Linked DNA regions of Homo sapiens. The protein of the gene in region 2 purifies or fractionates together with the protein of the main gene of each other region. This does not show direct contact. Each region holds a gene or a part of one and is shown on either strand. Other genes may lie near its edges. The genes, in order: GOT1 and PLA2G4D.

The links.
Region 1: the proteins of PLA2G4D (region 2) and GOT1 purify together in Homo sapiens (affinity purification with mass spectrometry; one large-scale study listed by BioGRID and IntAct). This does not show direct contact.

What each region holds. Positions count from the first base shown.
Region 1 is NC_000010.11:99,424,063-99,427,886, forward strand, and holds part of GOT1 (aspartate aminotransferase, cytoplasmic), read right to left. Parts: intron 1-3,824. UniProt on the Homo sapiens protein: Biosynthesis of L-glutamate from L-aspartate or L-cysteine. Important regulator of levels of glutamate, the major excitatory neurotransmitter of the vertebrate central nervous system. Acts as a scavenger of glutamate in brain neuroprotection.
Region 2 is NC_000015.10:42,073,930-42,077,753, reverse strand, and holds part of PLA2G4D (cytosolic phospholipase A2 delta), read left to right. Parts: intron 1-3,824. UniProt on the Homo sapiens protein: Calcium-dependent phospholipase A2 that selectively hydrolyzes glycerophospholipids in the sn-2 position. Has a preference for linoleic acid at the sn-2 position.

The DNA.
Region 1 (3,824 bases), on a different chromosome or scaffold from region 2:
TAAAGATGTACCAAAATAGCTACTTCCAAGTAAGAGTTGTCCCTAAAGCACATCAACATATCTATGATCACAACGTTACCATTGTTCAAAATATTCTTGAAACTTCTTTTGGAATTGTTTCTAGAGGCAACATCTCATTATTTTGAATAGCCTCAATAGTGCCAAATCTTTGTCCTTTGAAAGTCAATTATTTTTCGGGAATAGCATTTGCATCATCTCCATTGAAAAGAGTGAGTGAATAAGCTGGGTAAAACTTACGGAGAACAATTATTTTAAAAAATGATCCCTTGTGTGGGTCCTACATGCCTTGATAGCTAGTCTAAAAGGGGTTTCTAGAAATCTTGGAACAAGAAAAGCATATTTGAACTACCTACAAAGGATACTAGGTAGATGCAAAAAAATTTGGGATGTTTATAGAAAAACCAGTTCTGTTATGTTTCAGTTCTGTGTCTGGGTGTTATATCTATTCTATAACATTATTAGGCTATGTGTTTATATTTATGATAATATGTCATTCACAAATAATGTGCTATGAATAAATAAAATATGAAAGAGAAAGAAAAGACTGGAATACTGCTGTTCTTACCACTACTGAATACTCTGTGAAACTCTAAAATTCCAATACTACTACTTGGGTTGGGGATGGTTGGAGAGGCATTGTGTCTATACTGTGACTAAAAAAAAACTGGCCAATTTACAACTCCCCTTCCTTCTCCATTGCCCAGTTTTTCCCAGGTTGAGTTCTAGATTTGTTCCTGATGCCTCTCCTAACTGCCCTAGTGAAGCAGAACCAGATTCCTCTTGGGTGACTGGAGCAGTGGGGTCAGGCATTAACAACAACCACTATTCCTGCTGTCCCCAAGAATTTTTATTCCTATTTGTTGGACCCTTGAGTTTCTCATTCACTCTTTCATTCACTCGCTCACATAACAAGTACTTACTAAGTCTCACCATGAGCCAGGCACTGGCTAGTAGAAGCTATAGAGATTGATAAAATAAGATCCCATCTGCCCTCCAAGAAACACAGAGCATAGATAGAGCCTTTAATTCTAATTTGAGGAATCAGAGAAGATTTTACAGAGAATGAAGAATGAAAGATGAATAAGAGTTTAAAAGGTAAACAAGGGAAGAAGGGCATGCGAGAGGGCACACCTGTGCAAGGCCCCAGAGGCCTGGGGAGCATGAGGTCTTTGAGGATCTGCATTTTCATGACTCTGATGTGGAATCCACTAAGGATTAGCTGGGAGTGGCTAAAAGAATCCTGGAGTCTCTTTTAGGGAACTTCAGTTTCAATGGGTAACCACTGAAAGCATTTAAGCAAGAGAGTAACATGAGCAGCTGCACATTTTAATGGGATCATTTGAGTGACACCACAGAAAATAAACCAGAGAGAAGGACAGAGACAGTAGTTAAGAAGGGTGAGTTACTAGAAGTAGAAGGAGTAGAAAGCTACTGCAATATTCCAGAAGCGAAATAATGAGGCCTTGAATTCACACAATGGCAGCAGGGATGAAGAAAAGGGGTGCCATTGGAAATAGATTCGAGGTAGAAAAGACAGAACCTATTGACCAAATAAAAAGACAGGGGATTGGGGAAAGGGCTGCTGTTGACTCCAAGGTCTCCCTCAAGTCTGGATAATGAGTGGATGGTGGTAGTGGGGTCGACCAAGACCTAGAACACAAGGGGAAGATAGAAGAAAAGATCAAGGGGAAGGTGGAAATGATGAGCTGTGCTTTGAACATGCTGAATTTGAGGGAGTTGTAGGATGTGTCCACTGTAGGCCTGACATTCAGAGATGAGGTCTGGGGCATGGAGAAAGACATTGACGGAACCTGAGGGCAGAGAAATAACAACACGGATTTACTAAATACTTTGTACATACAAGGTACTGCACTAAATACATTTCTTTACTCTCATTTAATTTGGATAGCAACCCACAAAATAGATATTGTGATGTCTATTTTAAGGATCTGGCTGCTGCAGCCAGAAAAGTCAAACCATTTGCCCAGGATCACAGAGATAACAAGAGCTAGGCTGTCATACTATTAAGTTCATGGATCCATGTGCTTTTTTAAAAGCAAGAGATGTCTAGAGAAAGCCTGAAGCAAGCAGGCCCCTGGGACCATGTCAGGGGCCTTTTTATCAGCATGCTCCCCAGCTCCATGCCCCACTGCTCTTCTTCCTGGACATAAACCCTTTTAGGGGAGTCACACAGTCTACAGGTGGGCCCAGCAGTCTTGCTTTGCAGAAGGAAAGGAAGAAAGAACACAGATTTAAATGGTCAAACCATCACCCTCATCTTCCTCCTAAGATCGCCACTTCCCTCACCTATCCCCACTCAAGAGCCTATTAGGATACTGGGGAGAAGGCTAGGGGTACTCAGAAACATCTGATAAAGCATATTTTCCCAACTATTTTATTTGAAGATGCTAGGAAACCATGTTGAAAATAAGAAATATTAAAGCTAGCAGAGTTTATCTGGGCCAAAAGAAAGCTAGGCTCACATGAAAAAATGGACTGGAGTCTTTGAAGAAACTTCTTGCTACAGGTTGCACCAGGTTGGATCCATTTCCCATGTCCTTAAAACCACTTCAGTCTGAAGCTTTGAGAAGCACTAAAATGATCAACTTAGAAAGCATTGTGCTTAGCAGTGGAAAATGTGATACTCTCCTCTGTTTACCTATAAGGAAATTATTTAAATCATCACAGCAAGAAGAAAAACTGAGGAAACTAGCTGCAAGTAGGAACTGTCTGAGATTACAGGTGCAGTTTATTCTAAACGTGTCCAAAATCACTGGAACATTAACTAGATAACCTCCATTAGGTTTTATATTAACTTGGGGGAAAAAAAGTATCTTCCCTAAGGTCAATGATTAATTACATTTTCTTCACAAGGGGTATACTTGGGGATGTGTATAAATAAGACTAGGACATATAACGGCTGGAAGGAGACCTTTTATTCTACTCTAATTAGATCCTTATCCAAACACCTGCTATCCACAAAAAGACGGGTCACAGTGATGATCAAAAATAACACTTATATATGACACTTTTCATTTATATATCACATTTCACATATAATTATTCATTTAATCCTCAGACAACTGATGAGGCCAGTAAAATTATTATCCTACGCTACAGTCATAGAATGTGCTAGTGAATTGTGGAGTTGACTTTTAGTACAGTAGAATCTTTTTTATTTATTTATTTATTTATTTATTTTTGAGACGGAGTCTCACTCTGTTGCCCAGGCTGGAGTGCAGTGGCGCGATCTCAGCTCACTGCAAGCTCCGCCTCCTGGGTTCACGCCATTCTCCTGCCTCAGCCTCCCGTGTAGCTGGGACTGCAGGCGCCCGCCACCACGCCCTGCTAATTTTTTTGTATTTTTAGTAGAGACGGGGTTTCACCGTGTTAGCCAGGATGGTCTCAATCTCCTGACCTCGTGATCCGCCCGCCTCGGCCTCCCAAAGCGTTGGGATTACAGGCGTGAGCCACCATGCCTGGCCCAGTAGAATCTTAAGAGTAGAATTTGGGAGAGAGGTCATTCAATCTTGGCTCCTCATTTAACAGATGAGCCCCAGGGATGTTAAACAACCCTTCCAAGTCACATGGCTGGACCACGGTGCTGGGCCTGTACCTAGGTCTCCTGGCTCTTCCCACTACAGTGTACTGGCTACCACCTGGAGGTACCTGAAATACAGGTGTGGGCAGAGACTCTGAGGCCTGAGAGACCTGGCCTGGATTCCCAGCTCTACCACCCAGTGGTCAAATGACCTGGGGCAAATTGCTTCACCTCTCCAGTCTTCGGCTTCCTTGCCTCTAAA
Region 2 (3,824 bases):
CAGAGGAGTAAAAATCTCTGGATACCTGATCTAAGGGGCCCATAGGCAGAACATTTTAATTCTCCTGGTCAGTAGGCAGGATGGATTGGAAGCCTTGTGCCAGCATTGTCTTTACCTGGAACTATTGTAATCTAAAAGACACAAACTTTACTAAGAGGTTAATCAAACAAGGGCCAAAGATTAGTAATAACAAAATAGCTAACAAAGGTCCTAGGAGAGGTAAGAATGAGGTGAGACTTGGGAAGGCATTTTTGATTATGTAACCAGGGCACTGATCCCAACTATATCTGTTGATGTGATGTATCACATTTATTGATTTGTGTATGTTGAACCATCCTTGCGTTCCTGGGATGAATTCCACTTGATCAATGGTGAATAATCTTTTTGATGTGTTGCTGAATTTCGTATGATAGTATTTTGTCGAGAACTTTTGCATTTATGTTCATCAGGGATCTTGGCCTGTAGCTTTCTTTTTTTGTTTGTGTCCTTATCTGGCTTTTGTATCAATGTAGTTCTGGCCTTGGATAATGACTTTGGAAGTATTCCCTCCTCTTCAATTTTTTGGAATAGTTTGAGTAGAATTGGTATTAGTTCTTTAAATGTTTGGTGGAATTCAGCAGTGAAGCCATCAGGTCCTTGACTTTTCTTTGATGGGTGATATTTTATTACTGCTTCAATCTCATTGCTTGTTATTGTTCTGTTCAGCTTTTCTGTTTCTTCATGGTTCAATCTTGGTAGGTTGAATGTGTCCAGGAATTTATCTGTTTCTTCTAGGTTTTCCAGTTCACAATATTTTCACATATATATCCTTAAGAAAAATATGATATTATTTGCATGAACAATTTTGTACAAGTCTCCTTGCACACCTGCATTAAAGATTCTCTAAGCCTCCAAGATACATACCCAGTAGTTAAATTGTTGGGCCACTGGGTTTGTGCACCTTCAACTTTCCTAGGTATTGCCAAACCATTCTCCAAAGGAGTTGTGTTAATTCACACTCCCACTACCAGTGTATAATAGTTGCTTTTTTCTCTATATCTTGGGCAGACTTTTAAAGTTTTGTTTAACTATGGGGTGTGAAAGGAACATTTATCATAGTTTTGCATTTCTTTGATTTTTAGTTAGACAGTTGATGTTTTTAAGTATATTTATCATTTGGGCTTCCTCTTCCATGAATTACCTATTCAAACCCCTTTCCATTTTCCTGTTTAATTTGTCTTTTTCATATTGTTTTGTAGGAATTCTTTATGTATTCTCGATGTGAATCCTTACCAGTTCTAATGGTTTTAATGCATAATTTCAATATAATCTAATTTATCATTCTCCTTTATGGTTTGTGTTTTGGGGAGTCTTCCTTTTCACTCCCCCAAAGTTATAAAATATCTTCCTATACATTCTTATAAAATTTTTAAAGATTTATTTCTTACTAATAGGACTTTAATCCACCCAGAATTTATCTCCAGGTATCATGTGGATAGGGATCCAATTTTGTTTTTTCTCACATTAATAACAAATTTTCCCAGTCTCATCTATTGAATTTTTTCTCCACTGATCTGCATTGCTAATTCTGTCATGTATCAGGTTTCATATATTTTTCATGTATTTATATTCCTGTGACTCTTCCTGAGTGCCCTATTCTGTTCCAACAGGACAGATTCTCTATCCCTATGCCAACAGCACACTGACTAAAGTTTTGTGATAAATCTTGGTATCTGATAGGCCAAGTTACCAGTCCACTTGAATTGTTCTTCAGAATTCTCTTGGCTGTACTTGACCCTTTGCTGTTTCCTTCCTTCCTTCCTTCCTTCCTTCTTCCTCTCCCCTCCCCTCCCCTCCCCTCCCCTCTCCCTCCCTCCCTCCCTTCCTTTCCTCAGAGTCTTGCTCTGTCACCCAGGCTGGAGTGCAGTGGCACAATATCGGCTCACTGCAACCTCTGCCTCCTGGGTTCAAGTGATTCTTGTGCCTCAGCCTGCCGCATACCTGCGACTACAGGCATGCACCACCATGCACGGCGAATTTTTGTATTTTTAGTAGAGATGGTGTTTCACTGCTTTGGCCAGGCTTGCCTTGAACTCCTGGCCTTGAGTGATCTGCCTGCCTCAGCCTCCCAAAGTGCTGGGATTACAGGTGTGAGCCACTATGACTGGCCTGCTGTTGTAATTATATGATAGAATCACCTAGTCATGTTTTGCAATAAATGTTGTTGGGATTTTTATTGAAATGGCATTGAATTTATGAAGCCAACTTAATTACTAGAAATATTTTCATTTTATTACTATGTGCTATGTAGTCTTTGGATCTACTGTTTAAGTTCATATTCAGTTTTGATGGTGTTGTGTTTTAATAACTGACTTTCCTGCTGAGTGGCAGCAATTAGTTACTACAGAATGGGAGAAGCTGTTTTAACAGTTCACTTTACAAGGTGCTAGAAAACGCAGTTTGATCCTAGGCTGTAAAGCAGACTTTTATTTAATTACCATTGGATACTCCAGTAATGACTTAATGCACGGTTTTATGTGCAAGCTTTATAGACATTTTTTAGAAGACATTTTTTAATTGTTCACAAAAATAGAAATGCTTGTGGTATTATTAGACACCTATATATTCTTAAAAATGAACCTGGACAACATAGTGAGACCCCATCTCTACAAAAAGTTAAAAAATTAGCTGGGCATGGTGGTGCACACCTGTAGTCCCAGCTACTGAGGAGGCTAATGTGGGAGGATAGCTTGAACATGGGAGGTTGAGGCTGCAGTGAGTTGTAATCACCCCACTGCATTCCAACCTGGGCTTTAGAGTGAGACTCTGTCTCAACAAAAGCACCTATGCTATTTTTAAAATTTTGTCCCAATATGAAAGGTTTTTAATTTATTATTTTTTTCTTCTGATTATCATACCTTACCTCTTAAAGCCAACATTCATTGTAGACTTTACAAAATAATGTTTTCTTCGGGCAATTTTAGTGTCAATTTCTAATTTTTTAAAGACTTTAGATAAAAACAGGTATTTATTACCTCTATAATGTAATAATCTAAAATACCAAAAATCACTTACAATGTCAGAATATATAACTCCATTTATGACCAATCACAATTTCATTAATATTAATAAATATCATACCCTGAAACTTTGCTCAGAATGACTTTATTAGTCTACATACATCTTTAATATTGATTAGGTTTTTATAAAAACCCGCTCGTAAAATACACTAGCTATAATCAGTGCTTCTCAAACTCTCATCTCTTCGAAACTTTTTTCTTCAGTCTTTTGCTGGCAAGTACTGAACTGCTTAGAAGCTGCTTATCATTCCTCAAGGAGAAACTCAGAGTGGTTCTCTTATCCTTTCCTGAGTTAAGAGCTGACACACTTTCCTTCCCTTTAGTCTGCATTGCCGGTACTGCACCAAGCTCCAGTGTTTCCCATGGGACCCTCGAATCATCAGAATGGTGTTCTGCAGGGTTGGGGTTACTTGCTTGGAAACTGGGGGGTTAGAGACTGAGAGTCCTGCCGCAGCTTACTGGTGAGCCATTAGATATACCGGGTGGGTTTCAGTAGATGGAGGGGTGTGCTGACCTTTTTCCAGAACTTTCCCTAGGGCATAAATTGTGCAACTATAGTAAAAGGACACATTTTCCCTAGTCATATGTATCAAAAGAGCAACAGAGTTTCTAAATAAAAAGATTTTGAGAAGGGGTCACGTACACACATTTGTACCTAAGGACTGACTCGTACGTACACCACCACCATCAGTGGCAGGGGATCGAGCCCTATTTAGAGATTTCCTGCAAATTCCCTGTAATTCATACTGGGGACCATTGGAAAAT